Homo sapiens: one gene and its partner. The protein of the gene in region 1 interacts with the protein of each later gene in a pairwise test. Each region holds a gene or a part of one and is shown on either strand. Other genes may lie near its edges.

What was found. Proteins that work in one complex are often made in the same cells at the same time.
Region 2: the proteins of TMEM14A (region 1) and ERMAP interact in binary tests that used the Homo sapiens proteins (3 or more experiments, as listed by UniProt).

What each region holds. Positions count from the first base shown.
Region 1 is NC_000006.12:52,674,020-52,681,250, forward strand, and holds part of TMEM14A (transmembrane protein 14A), read left to right. Parts: intron 1-3,067; 5' UTR 3,068-3,083; coding exon 3,084-3,153; intron 3,154-7,231. UniProt on the Homo sapiens protein: Inhibits apoptosis via negative regulation of the mitochondrial outer membrane permeabilization involved in apoptotic signaling pathway.
Region 2 is NC_000001.11:42,812,187-42,820,257, reverse strand, and holds the start of ERMAP (erythroid membrane-associated protein precursor), read right to left. Parts: upstream 3,137-8,071; 5' UTR 3,005-3,136; exon of another isoform or gene 2,861-3,004; intron 2,725-2,860; exon of another isoform or gene 2,443-2,724; intron 1-2,442. Other genes in the region: SVBP (small vasohibin-binding protein), read left to right, coding at 3,714-3,827. UniProt on the Homo sapiens protein: Possible role as a cell-adhesion or receptor molecule of erythroid cells.

The DNA of each region.
Region 1 (7,231 bases):
AGTATTAAATCATTTAATTCTCAGAACAATCCTATAAGGTAGATATTTTTGTTATCCCTATTTTAAAGATGGAGAAACTGAGTTATTGAGGTTCCACAGCTAGTAAGTGGTGGTATCAGGTTTGAAGATAAGCATACTTTATAGCATATGGTTAGCTCCTTTAGAAAGATAATAAGTAGGATCAAACATGAGAAGTTCATGGGGCTGAACATTGTAAGTTACCAGATGGAACACAGTGCCCTGTGGTCACAACTTTAAGCTATGAAGAGCATGTGATTGATCCAGAATTGAAAACTCTGAAGAACATGTTTGGTTTACATGTTCGCTTTTTTTCAGCAGCTAACTCAGTTATCAGAGGTGATGTTGCATAGAGGTTAGGACTGAGACTTCCCTAAGTCAGAGATCTTTGTTTTGCTGTATAACCTTCAGGCATTGCTTGCATTCTCTGTGTGCCACTTTCCTCATCTGGAAAATGAGGATAATCATGACAGTACATACCATAGGGTGTGGTCATGATTACATGAGTTGATACACATAAGGCACCTAGAATGCCTTAGAATGGCACCTAGCACATAGTAATTGCTCAAAAACATTATAACCTCTTTATTATTATTATTTGTTTAGCCATCATTCAGTCAGCAAATGGTTTTTGGACCCAGGTTCTCCCTACATGCTACATCCTACTGTACCACTTCTCGGCCACAGATGAGCTCTCCTGTTTTAATTCTCCTTCCTGCAGATGATGAGCATTTTTCAGTGTTGCCTCCTTTTTGGTGCTGTCATCTCCTGTGCCTCAGCTTCCCTCCCCCATACCCTTCCTCATAGTAAGTTCTAGTGGATGACTCTGAGATCAGCTCAAAATTCTTCTTCTTTTTTTTTTTTTTTTTTTTTGAGACGCCCAGGCTGGAGTGCAGTGGCACGATCACAGTTGATTGCAACCTCTGCCTCGCAGGTTCAAGGGATTTTCCGGTCTCAGCCTCCTGAGTAGCTGGGATTACAGACATGCACCACCATGCCACGTCCGGGTAATTTGTTGTATATTTAGTAGAGAAGGGGTTTCACCATGTTGACTGGGCTGGTCTCAAACTCCTGACCTGAAGTGATCCACCAGCCTCTGCCTTCCAAAGTGCTGGGATTACAGGCGTGAGCTACCTCGCCTGGCCCCTTTTTATGTTCTACATTAATTTATTACCAATTGATAATGGGAGATAAAAGGCCCATTAACCTAAATGATAAGCAATGAGAAAATTGTAAAAATATGCAAGGAATCTCACTTACCATTCCTCACATTTACAAAGATAATTACCTTCCCTGTGGAAGAAATATAGACGTGAGAAAGCTCAGAAATAAAGGCACCACTAGGGGTCTTAGAACTTAAAAAGCTGTAAAGAACTCCAGAACTCTTTTCATCTATTCTCCTAACTTGCAGGGAGAGTTGAGGGTGAGGGAGGGGCATGGTCTGAGGCCCAGTGGCCACATCTCTAGCCTGTGGCTGGCACGCTATCTACTGCATCTGAGAGAATTGTGGGCAGGGTTTCAGTGGAACTTCTCACCACTGGGTATGTTTCAGCTGCTGCTATGATGCACAGTAGGATGTCATTGTCATCCATTTAACTTCATGCTGGGGCTATATTGTATTCTTTAGTGATTTGCCATTGATTAAGTGTGGATGTCTCTGCTACCACAGAAGAGCTATCTTGCAAGGAAACTAATGACAAAGCCATTGTTTAAACTGAATTAGTCAATCTCCAAGAAGACATCCATCTGTAAAGAATGAGAGGACTAATATCTGTACAGACATGAAAGAATTATAAGATGGAATTGTGGAAGTTAAGGAATTTAGAGGAGGAAGAAGGCATTTGCTCCAGATCACTTTGATAGTACAGACTAGAGTCAAGGAAATTAGGAGGTAATTAATAAGGGTAGAAGTCAGGGGAGAAGGTTTAAAGGGAGGTGGCATACAGGGGATAGTCGGGCTTTTGGAGGTGGACAGGGAGGGAGGACATTTCAGGCATGGAAGTGAAAAGTGAAGATTGTAGTGTCACAGTTCAGTGAAGAGACCTGGCTGACCAGAGCAGAAGTTTTATTTGGGTAAGTGGAAAGAATTGAACAGCTGAGAGTATGGCAGATCTTGAAGACAGGCAGAGGAGAATCAGCTTGAGGTACCCCCCAGAGTGTGCTTAACAGTGATGAGGATGAAGGGGAAAGTAGAGGGTTGGGAGAGGTGAAGTTTGAACCTCTTTTTTCCCTTGAGACAGGGTGTCACTCTGTCATCCAGGCTGGAGTGCAGTGGCACAATCACGGCTCATTGCAACCTCAACCTCCAGGGCTCAAGCAATCCTCCCAACTCAGCATCCTGAGTAGCTGGGATCACACGTGCATGCCATCACACCCAGCTAATTTTTTGTATTTTTACTAGAGATGGGGTTTTGCCATGTTGATCAGGTTGGTCTCAAATTCCTGGGTTTAAGCCATCTACCTGCCTTGGTCTTCCCAAGTACTAGGATTACAGGCGTGAGCACCATGCCTGGCCGAACTTCCCTTTCTTTAGTAGACTAGAGAAATTAATTTCTGTAATTCTGTGGAATGTCTTTGTATTAGTCATTCTCACACTGCTCTAAATAACTACCTGAGACTCGGTAATTTATGAAGAAAAGAGGTTTAATCAACTCAACTTCCGCAGGCTGTACAGGAGGCGTGGCTGGAGAAGCCTCAGGAAACTTATAATCATGGTGGAAGGCAAAGGGGAAGCAAGCATGTCTTCACATGGCGACAGGAGGGGGAGAGCACGTGAAGGGGGAAGTGCTACACGCTTTCAAACATCCAGATCTTGTGAGAACTTTAGATCATGGAACAGCACTAGGGGGATGTTGCTAAACCATTAGCAGCCACCCCCGTGATCCAGTCACCTCCCACCAGGCCCCACCTCCAACACTCAGGATCACAATTCAACATGAAATTTGGGTGGGGACACACAGCCAAACCATATAAGCGTATCATTTTTAGATACATTCCCTCCCCAAAACTTTTTTATTTTGTATAATTTGTCCTTTCCCCCTTGCTTTAGAATTGCAACCTTGCCAATGGACCTGATCGGTTTTGGTTATGCAGCCCTCGTGACATTTGGAAGCATTTTTGGATATAAGCGGAGAGGTAAGCCTAACCCAAATTTTCATGAAAGGGAATTAGTGGGGGTTTGGAGGTTGTGCTAGGTCATGTGAGGCTCTGTAAGTAGGATGAGAAGCTAAAGATGCCTTAGAGGTGGCTGAAGACCAGCGTGTCTTGGAAGGGACTCATGAAAGGAAGAGGCTTCCGTGGGGCTGAGCATGACAGAGTGTTCCAACCTGGGGGTTCTGGGCCTCTCTTCCACCACAAAACTCTCACTTCACTTCATCATCAGTTGCATAGTTAATTGATTTAATCTCCCTCAGGACCACTGCTTATTATTAAATGAGGATTTTTTTTTTTTGCTTTACATAATCGTGGTACCAAAAAACTGAGTTATATTGATCCTGTGTGTTGTAATGAAAACATTGTTAAATATTCAGTTATCATATCCAAAGTTGTCTCTTCACCTTTGTCCAAAAGAGGGGGGAAAAAAACTCAGGTAATCAATTAAAGAGTTTTCATGGAGAAAAAGGAAAGGTCAAATTTTTTTATTTTACTTTTATTTTAGAATCATTTATAGTTATGATGTCTCCTAGTTATGTTTCATATATATACACAACCTTTAGTCATCTTTCTGACAAACTGTCTCTTACGTTTTAATGACATTTTTTAAATGAAGTTTTTTATTTCAAAGGGTATTGTATTTGTGGCAGTGGTTGACTTGAATTTGAGTGAAAAAGCCAGGTCTACATGGTTACCAGTTAGCTTCCTTCCTTAAAGGCTGCTAAGAAGTCAAAGACCAGAAGCACCGTATAGCTCTTGTAGCTGGGGGGCTGGCAGGTAGAATTGACCATCATCTACGATTCCTTAAAGCCTGTAATTCACCTTGGATTTTTGTTCGTTGTTTCTGTCTTAATGTATGTATTAGAGATGTGTATTTGAAGGAAAAAAAAAGATGATGGCACCAAAGTAAGACCTGTAAACCAAGTACTCAGAGGTTGATGTTTCACAATCTACTTTAGAAAGAACTCAGTTTAAAATGCTAAGATTGTTTTTGAAAAAAAATTTTCACTGTCAAAGACAATGTCTAAATAACTTCTATTACAGAACAGAAAAGAACATCTGGGCATTTTTGCCTGCCTTTATGAGAGGTGGAAAGAAAGTGGGGAGAGAGATATAGAGAGTGTGTGTATGTGTGTGTTTGTGTGTGTGTGTGTGTGTGTGTGTGTGTGTGTGTGTGTGTGGAAGGAATCATTTTATTCTAACTCACATCTCTTCATTGTTTACCAGCTGGTGGGAACAAATGAAATTACATTAGCTGTGAGGTCTCTGATTTCAAGGGCTTGTTGTCCACCTGCACAATATGGTTTCTTGGCCTCCTGCAAGAGCCCCCTACTAAGTGATCCTGGAAGCCCCCAAGGGTATTATGGGTTCACAAGGAAGCTCACTTTGTAGTATAATGTGGGTTAAAAGCATGGGCCACAGAATCAAGCATTCCTGCATTCCAGTCTTGACGCTGCCACTTACCAGCACTGATACTCAGGTGAGATGTTTCAACATCTGGGCCTCAGTTCCTCACCTGTAAATTAATCTGTTAGGATTAAATAAGATGATGCATGGTACACATTTCACATGGTGCCTGGCATAGAATAAAGTTTTAATCTTCTTGTTTTTTTCTGCTGCTACTGCCCTGCCAGTGGGAGGTCTGTGAGCCATGAGGCATAATACCTTTTTCTAGTTTTGTACTCTAGTTTTGTATTATGTTCTAAGCTGCCAGTGGCTCGAATGTCTTAGAATGTGTGTGTAAAGTGAGTTAACTCTCCTTTGACTTAGAGCTTCCCTAGGTATGAGTCCTATGTAGCTGGGCCAGGAGACCCTTCTACGGGACAGTTATTGAGAATAATCTTGGGTCGGTGAAAGATGTGATGTCGAAATGGTGTTTAGTGGGAGGACACAGATGTATCCAAATCCTAAACTAGACCAGCTGTGAGACACAAGTTGGGTTAAACGGAGAAGCTGATAGATTTTTATTTTGATGGGGGTACAGTGGGGAGAGAGGGCAGCCAGTGGCGGGACACAGGATGCTGAGCACTGTGCTTGCCTGGGCTCACCCCTCCTCCCAGGTAGGTCTCCAGAGAGGTGGATGACCAAGAAGATGCTATGATATGGAGGCTCTTCCTAGGCCAGGTAACATCGAGTGCCCAGAGTGAAAGAGGGCCAGATGGCATTCCCTGCCTTGTCCCACACTAGGGCTGAACCAGACCTTACACCTTCCTACTCCAGTTGAAGGGAAGGGCACTGACACAGCAATCCCTTCAGAGAGGTGCAGGTGTGCTTGCTGGGCAGGCTGCTATTTGGACGACCATAAGAGCACCTGCAGGGAAGCTCCCAGATGCATCTTTCAACTCTTTTTAAAACTCCTCTTCCAAGACTGCCCCACCCAGATCAGGCATCCCAGGAAGTGGGAAGGAAAAGAGCTTAGAGCTCCTTTTCTTGTAGCCCCCACTATGGGTCACTGAGCTTGTTCTCAGGATCTTTGCTTTCTTCCACCAGCGTGGTTTTCTTGTAAAACAGCCCACAGTCCTGCCACCTTCCTCAGGCAAGATGAAATGTCTCAAGAACCTTCCTGGTTCTTGCTGCTGGTGAGCCTGCCCCTGCTGTTTGCTGTCTGATCTCATCAAGACTGAAGTGTAGACACTGCCACTTTCTCCACATACTTAAGTGTGCGTGTTTGGTGGTGGTGGGGAGGGTGGGGTGGGGTGATCCTAACAGTAAATAAACCTTCAGGGTATACAGAAAGGAGCATCATAGAATCTCTAGGTGAGAAGACACCTTAATGGTCACCTAGTTGTGCATTTCAGAAAGTGTTTTAATCTCCTTAATATCCTTATCTGGTATCTTCTGCTTGAACATGACCCATAATAGGGGTGCATTAAATCAGTATTTATCAAGTGCTCCTATGTACCTGGCCCTGTGTCTCGCCCTGGGGAAACAGCAATCGCTCACAAGTGAGTAAGGGCAGACTGACATTCAATCCATGAACAGCATATAAACATATGATCAGGAATAGCGGAAGACTATGATGGGGGCCCTTGTTCAGAATGGTGGGTTGGAGAAGACAACACTTAAGCAGACATCCGAAGGTGAGCTACACTTGGCCAAGTGAACAGTGCAGAGACAAGCAGTCTGCACAAGGAACAGTATGTCTGAAAGCCATGACGAATAGAGTTTGGTATATTCAGAGAACTGAAAGAAGGCCAGGGTTCCCACAATATAGCAAACTGGATTATTTTTCCTAAGAGCTTTGGGAAGCACTAAGGTTTTTAATTAGGAGAGTGACCTGTCCAGATGTATGTTTTTAAAAGATCATCTTACTGTGTTTGAAGAATAGCTTTTGGGGGAAACAATGTGTAATTTAACATTATCTCCAACTGTAACATTCTAAGCCACTATATATTTATATATTTATATATATATATATATATGTATATATATGTGTATATATATATGTGTGTATATATATGTGTGTGTATATATATGTGTATATATATATATACATATATGTATATATATATATACACATATATATATGGCATGGATGATTAACCCCGTTTTACAACTGCTAAAACTTAGAGAGGCTAAGTGACTTAGCCAGAGTCCTTTAGCCAGCAAGTGAAAGAATTAGGAGTAGAACCTAGCGTGTTTGTCTTCTCATTCAGAATGCTGCTCTGGTGTGTGTGTGTGTGTTGTGTGTGTGTGTTTGTGTGTTGTATGTGTTGTGTTTGTGTGTTTGTGTGTGTGTGTGTATTGTGTGTGTATGCATGCATGTGCTGCAGTGGTTCTTAACCCTGGCTGCACATTTGAATTTCCAATGGATATTTTAAAAATGAGATGCTTTGACCCTACCCCCCAGGGATTTTAACCTAACAGATTCTAAATAGGGTGAGTTCCATGAAGCAAGGATTGTGTGTGTCTTATTCATAGTGTCACTGCCATGTAACCCACTGTCCAGTGCACAGAAAGTGCTTGGTGTTTGCCACAGTGCTCTGGGGTGGGTATGTGGGTTGGGGGCTGGGAGTGTACTGGTGGGGTGAGTGCATGGGATAGGGACTGGGTAGCTGGG
Region 2 (8,071 bases), on another chromosome or scaffold:
GAACATCAAGGATAAAGGAGAAAAATATCCTAAACAAATTAACAAATTAACAAACAAAATATATGGGAAGTAACACAAGTCAGAATAAATCAGTCTCCTCAAGAGTAGCCACATGAGAAGCTAGATGACAATGAATCAATGCCGTTAAACTTCTGAGGGAAAATAATTTCCAATGTGGAAATCTGTCACTCAAGGATGAAAGAAAATAAAGCCATTTTTAGACAAGCAAGGACTCAAAAATTTAGCTTCCATGAACCCCTTCTGGGGAGTTAGTGGAGAACATACTCCTCCAAAATGAGAGAATAAACCAAGAATGGAAAAACATAAGATCCAGAGAGCAGGGGATTTGGCACAGGAGAAACAAGAAGAGAATCCCCAGAATGTGGTTAGGTCCCTAATCCTAGGACAAGAGCTGTGAAGCAAGGCTAAGCAGAGGAGTTTGGAGCAAAGAGAGGATGAGTCTAAGGAGGGATGCTGCCAAGAAAAAAAAAAAAGACACTGGTAAATGACCTGGTTCACATCTGTAGTACCAGCCACTGAGGGGCTGAAGCGGGAGGATCACTTGAGCCCACCTCTGAAAATAAAAAATAAACAAGGGATGCATAGATCATTAAGCAAATAAAAATAGATAATTTTTTGACTCTAGAAAAAATATTATTCAATAAAGTGAATATAATCTTAGTGTAGTATATACCTCAACTGTAAAAATATTCTAGTTATATTACTATAAACTCTTGCTAGTCATTCAACAAACCAGGAAATTCTGCAGCCTGGCCAAGAGTCCACTGGTAGACACAAAAGAGACAGACAAAGCATAAACTCATGGAAAGAATAGAGAGGGGACTTTGACAGTGTTCAGCCTCAACATTCACTCCCTCCTGGCTCCAACCTTCACCTTCCCAATAAAGAATGTAGAATCCCAAACTGGTATCTCCAGTTCCGTTCTTTTCTGAAATCTTCTAATTGCTCACTGGACAATTCTTCTTGCCTATTGCCACTTGAAGCGTAATCTAGCTCTTTCTCTCTCTCGGTCCCTCTCTTGCGCGCGCGCACACACACACACACACACACACACACACACACACACGCTCCTAACTTATCCTCTTCCTCACCGTTTCCCAAACCAACTCATCACACCTTCTCCACTTTCAACAGTGGCTCAGTGGCACCACTACTTTTCCAGTCTTCCATGTGGCTTTTCCACTCCTCCATTCCCTATAGCTGGTTTGTTTTTAGCTGGCTTCTAAAGGTCCTGCCGTGTCTTCAGCTGTAATCTAGTTCATAGCTTATATGAACGTTATAAACCATACCATGTGACACAAATGTAAAATACCAGTACTACATCAAGATTTCTGAAATAGACTCTGACTTGGTTACTTTTATTAATAATAATCGAATCAGCATTTGTATAGGGTTTTTAAAAAGACATTTAATGTACTTTCCTCTGATTGCTAAAGTATAAACGTTTACTGTAGAAATTTTGGAAAAGCTGGGCGCAATTGCTCACATCTGTAATCCCAGCACTCTGGGAGACTGAGGCAGGAGGATCACTTGAGCCCAGGATTTCCAGATCACCCTGGGAAACACAGTGAGACTCCATCTCTACAAAAAAATTTTAAAAAATTAGCCAGGCATGATGGTGTGTGCCTGTAGTCCCAGATACTTTGGAGGCTGAGGTGGGAGGATTGCTTGAGCCCAGGTTACAGTGAGTTATGATCACACCACTGCACTCCAGCCTGGGTGACAGAGCAAGACCCCATCTATTTTTTAAAAATTAAATAAATAAAAAATAAACATTGTGCAGTAGATCTCTAGAACTTTTTCACCTTACAAACCTAAAATTCTATACCCTTTAAACAATTCCTCTTTTCCCTCTCTCCTAGCCACTGGCAGTCACCATTCTACTTTCTGTTTCTTAGACTTTGATTGCTTTAGATACTTCATATGAATGGAAACATGCAGTATTTGTCTTTTTGGGGCATTGTGCTCACTTTTAAGGCTTTTGATACCTAGTACTAAACTGACCTCCAGAAAGGCTGTTAACGATTTACAGTTTGACTGGAAGCGTGTGTCCATCTGGGCTGAGTTCATTGCTTGCTTAGCATCTATCAGTTGTTTCAATTCTTGCCAGTTTGATAGAGGAACAAATAGTGGACCCAAACAGGGTTTTACTTTGGATAAGGCCATTGTCCTATGAATCCTGGCTGAAATATTTGCTCCAGCACTTAGAAGCTGTGTGACCCGGGACAACTCACTTAACTTTTCAATGCTTCTGTTCCCTTATGTGTAAATGGGGATAATAATATACACGTATACATTATACACACTTATTATGAGGAATTAGTTAATAAATGTGAAGCTGTAAGAACAGTGCCTGGAATATAGTAAGCCCAAATGTAAGGTAGCTATTATCATTTTTGTCAATCCTTGCTAATGTAATACCTGGAAAATTACAGCCAGCTATTTTAATTTACATCTCCTCGGTAATCAGTTGAACGTGAATGTTCTCTGTATTTATACTGGCTATTGGTACTTCTGTCAAGATTTCCTTTTTCAAAGCACTGTGGCAAACGGGATCTCACTTGATCCTCCCAATAAACTCATGAATGAAGAAGGTGGCAATCATCAATCCCCACTTTTCGAATTAAGAAATTGAGCCTCGGAATTCGAATTCTGAGCAATTCCAATTCCAGGATTCGGATCTCACCCTCTAAAACCTAGTAGCTGTTGCAGAAAATATAACGGGAAAAAGCTTTGGTTAGCCGTAACCACCACCCACCCCGGTGTGGCTCCGCCCCTGCCCCGCCCCGGCACCGGCTTGCCCCGCCCCGCCCTCTACGCGGGTTTCCAGCCATCCTCTCTGCGCACGCGCGGCCGCTCCTGCGGGCGGAAGCCTCCTGGCGCTCGGCCCTGCGCCCCTCCCCCCGGCGCGCGGCCCCGCCCAGGACGAGGGGCGGTGGGCAGGCAGCGCTGGGTCCAGTGGTCGGGGGAAGGCGAGGATTACCCTCCCGGAGGCGTTGTCTGCGACTCGGCGGAGGCTCCAACTTCCAGTGGCCCGGTCGGGAAAGGTACAGACTCCCAAGCCTCTTGGTCGGCGGCTCCAGCGACCGCCATTTTCCTCCAGGAGAGGGAAGAGGGCAGGAGGCGGGGGCCGTCCCCTGGGGCCGGGCGGGCCGGGGCGGGGTCGGGGGGCCGGGCGGTGGGGGGCGGGCCCGGCTGGCTATGGGGCCCGGCCCCCTGGCCCCAGGAGCGGCTGCTGCGGCGGAGTTAGGCCGGCCGCAGTGGGAAAACCCTGGGCGCCCTCTGGGTCTCAGCGTCCCATTAGGACGGTTCCGCGCTGGGTGCCGCACGCCGCACAGTGGGCAACGCTTTCACAGGGGTCTTTGCATTTCACCCGCACACAGCAGCTCCTGGAGGGAGGCCAGGAAAACACTTAACCCATTTTGCAGACAGAAAACTAAGGCTCAAAGTGGGGAGGAGACTTGCCCAGGGACACCCAGCGAGGTTGTGGCCTTGGGACTCGGTTCCTACTCCCCCACATCCAGCGCCCTTGCCACCAGACCACTCTGCCTCACCTGGCAAAGGATGGGGCGGAGCTAAAGGATTAGAGGAGTAACTGGCAGGGTATTTTTTGTTTTGTTTTGTTTTGAAGATCTGCCTCTTTCTGTACCACCCAGATCAGAGCCTCCTAAGAAATATCCAGAAGTCAAGCCATGGATCCACCTGCACGTAAAGAAAAAACCAAAGTTAAAGAATCTGTCAGCAGAGTTGAGAAGGCCAAACAGAAATCAGCCCAGCAGGAGCTGAAGCAGAGACAAAGAGCAGAGGTGAGATTAAGGCGGAGGCTCTGTATGCCTGTAGTCTGCTGGAGATGATGCTGGAATAGAGAAACAGCAGAAAGGAGAACTGACAGCGAGCCATACTTGCCTCCAGGCAGGATGGGTGTTCTCCCAGGTTTAGAGGGGACAACACTGAGGTTCAGAATGGTGAGGTGGCAGCCCAGAATCACATGCCAAGTTAGTGTCAGAACCCCAGTCTGGTGCGGAGCTTTTGTGGTAAGAGACCCAAGGGAAGGAAGAAAGGAAAAAAAATGATATGTAAGGGGAAAGAAGGGGTCAGAATGAGAGAGAGCACGCAAGTGTCAGACACCCCCAGTACAGATGTTCTGGATTTGGTGCGGAAAGCAGCTACTCATGCCAGGTAGAGGCCCAAGCTTTAAACTCACCAGTGTGTTCCTTTGTTCTCTCAACGATTACAATCAACTTGAGAATAAAAAGCTTTAAACTTTACCCTGCCAATATTGAGCCACATACAGACATAAGTATTTTATTTTAGTATTTAATGTCAGGGAAAATCTTGCTGGTCTCTTTTTCCCTCTTTGTTTTGTTTATCTGTCTGCTTTGTTCATTTCCTGTCTTACATCCTTTTACTTCTCCATGGACAACTACTTTTTTTTATACTTTTACATTCAAATATATTAATAGATATCCTTGAACAATATACAGTAGTATTTTAAATTTTTACATTAATAAAATTCCTGCATTTTATTTTGCATTTTGCTTACATTGTTTTTTAGAACTATTCATGCCAATATAAGAATTTAGTTTATTCTCATTAATTTTTATAATAGTCTATTTTATGCATCCATTTTACTTAGTATATTTATTCATTCTTACAGAGATGCACATTTAAATTATTTATAGTATTTTTTGCTATTACAAACATTGCTGTAGTGAAAAGCTTTTAGGTGTCTCCTTTGGCACCTGCCTTAGAATTTCTGTAGGTTATTTAACTAGAAAAATTACTGGGTACATTCTCAATTTTACTAGACATTGCCACATTGCTTTTTTTTTTTGAGATGGAGTCTCTTTTTATTTTTTATTTTTTATTATTATACTTTAAGTTCTAGGGTACCTGTGCACAACATGCAGGTTTGTTACATATGTATACATGTGCCATGTTGGTGTGCTGCACCCATTAACTCGTCATTTACATTAGGTATATCTCCTAATGCTTTCCCTCCCCCCTCCCCCCACCCCACAACAGGCCCTGGTGTGTGATGTTCCCCTTCCTGTGTCCAAGTGTTCTCATTGTTCAGTTCCCACCTATGAGTGAGAACATGCGGTGTTTGGTTTTTTGTTCTTACGATAGTTTGCTGAGAATGATGGTTTCCAGCTTCATCCATGTCCCTACAAAGGACATGAACTCATCCCTTTTTATGGCTGCATAGTATTCCATGGTGTATATGTGCCACATTTTCTTAATCCAGTCTATCATTGATGGACACTTGGGTTGGTTCCAAGTCTTTGCTATTGTGAATAGTGCCATAATAAACATACGTGTGCATGTGTCTTTATAGCAGCATGGTTTATAATCCTTTGGGTATATACCCAGTAATGGGATGGCTGGGTCAAATGGTATTTCTAGTTCTAGATCCTTGAGGAATCACCACATTGTCTTCCATAATGGTTGAACTAGTTTACAGTCCCACCAACAGTGTAAAAGTGTTCCTATTTCTCCACATCCTCTCCAGCACCTGTTGTTTCCTGACTTTTTAATGATCGCCATTCTAACTGGTGTGAGATGGTATCTCATTGTGGTTTTGATTTGCATTTCTCTGATGGTGAGTCTCTTTTTTTTTTGAGACGGAGTCTTGCTCTGTCACCCAGGCTGGAGTGCAGTGGCGTGATCTCTGCTCACTGCAACCTCTGCCTCCCGGGTGCAAGCAATTCTCCTGCCTCGGCCTCCAGAGTAGCTGGGATTACAGGCGTGCACCACTGCCTTGGCCTCCCAAAGTGCTGGGATTATAGGTGTGAGCCACTGCACCCGGCCGATATTGTCAACTTTTAATTTTTGTTAACCTGATTCATTCATTAAATATTGGCCAGGCACAGTGGCTCACACCTGTAATCCCAGCACTTTGGGAGTCCGAGGCAGGCGGATCATGAGATCAAGAGATTGAGACCATCCTGGCCAACATGGTGAAACCCTGTCTCTACTAAAAAAAAAATTAGCTGGGCGTGGTGGTGCTCCCTGTAGTCCCAGCTACTCGGGAGGCTGAGGCAGGAGAATTGCTTGAACCCAGGAGACGGAGGTTGCCGAGATTGTGCCACTGCACTCTAGCCTGGGCGACAGAGCTAGACTCTGTCTCAAAAACAAAAAAAAAAGAAAAAGAACTGCTAGTATGTGCCAGGCACTGTTCGAGGAATTTGAGTCACATGATGACAAAGCAGAAAAGAATCCCTGCCTTCATGGATCTTGCATTCCAGCAAGGGGAGGCAGTAAACATAATAAGTAAACTTACTAGTGCATTTGAAGTTAATCTGTAAACTGAAATCTACCTTTGGGTTAAGGCAGACCCCCTGAGAGCTGTGGTCCTTTACCTTCCCATTCCCACCTGGATCCGGGTCCTCAGATGATATGACTGCATTGTGCTTTGGTGAACAATATGAGGGTTGCTATAAGAAACAGCCCTGAAGCAGGAGAACAGAAGCTACAGATAAGAAAACCATTGATCAGAGAAATGGTGATATAGCCAAGGGAGCTCTCACTGGAGGAACAGAGCTATCTATACTTCCGTGTACAACAAATGCTCTGGGAAATGGAGAACCAGTTGCCAGCCCATATGTGGTTACCTCACACCAATCAAAAGTGACTGTGGAGAGCACCCCCAATTTGGAAAACCAAATGAAAATGGAGTATCTCTGTTCAGAATGAAAATTTTGAAGAAATTATAAATTTACCCATTGGATCGAAACCATCCAGATTAGATGTCACTAACAGTAAGAGCCCAGAAGTTCCTTTGAATCCAGTTTTGGCCTTTGATGATGAAGGAACGCTTGGGCCCCTGGCTCAGGTAGATGGTGTTCAAACACAACAGACTGCAGAAGTTAAATGCGTATTTTTTCTGAAGAACCAACGTCAAAATTTAACGAGAATTTCTATAATTAATGGAATTCCTTTCATGCTATAAAAGAGCATCCCCTCTTCCAGTTTTCTAAAGATTTCTTGACCATCATTTTGAAAAGATTTATTTAAACTAGCTAAAGACAACAGACAGGATAGCTTTCCTAATAATTTTCATCAGTAGAAAAAAAATACTCCTCATTCTTCAGTACTTTCAAATGGCTTTTTCCAGTGTGCTCCTTCTTAGCAAATTAGTATTTTTCTGCGTTATTTAAAAGACAAGAGGATTTGGCTATAAAATGATTGACTAGGATTGACTAGGCATGATTTTTTTTCACATAGTTTGGTCTTAAAGCTTAACAGCTTAAAATTGGCAAAAAAAACTTGTGCCTTTTACCATGTAATACTTGAAAAGTAAGTACCTCTTTGCTACAAGTAGAATGAATAGGGAAAAGTTTAAGCCTGTTTTTTTAAAAATATTATTTTAAAGAGCTCTATTTGTAGAGGCAAATTATAGGCAGATTACCAGTTTCTTATAAATACAAACTTGTACATGGACATTCTGCAAACCCAGCTGTCATATTCTTGCAACTACTTTTGCAAAAGCATACTAAAAGGTTTTAAAATGTGAAAAAACATTATTTTTTCAGAGCAAGAAAATAATTTACTGTTGTCTTCAATAATGTGTAAAGTTTTTCCAGATAAACTAATCAAATAAATTAGAACAATGTGACAACATTGCAAATTTGTCATTAGATGCATTCCTTCTAACGTTACCAGGGGAGGATGTTACTGATGATTCAAGGCTGTTTCTGAAGTCTGTGTGTTGCTACTGTCCCCAGTGATGGTGGGACTTACCTCTGTCCTACTTGATCACAAATTATGTTAGGGGGAAATAAAGATTTAATATTTCATTAAATAAAAAAGAAATTTGGTTTTGCTCATTTAAGAGCAACAAGAAAATGGTGGTGTGTTGACTGTGTTTGGCCGCAGGGCACAGACCTTTATGGAAGTCCTCGCTCTGCATGGCATCCACCAGCTTTTCACCTTTCATTCTTATTCTTCACTTTTGCTGCTGAGCCTAGCTGTACAAATTTGCACTTTCATTTGCTAATGTAAATTCAATTTATTTTACCATTTTAGAGACTACTAATGATTAAATGTA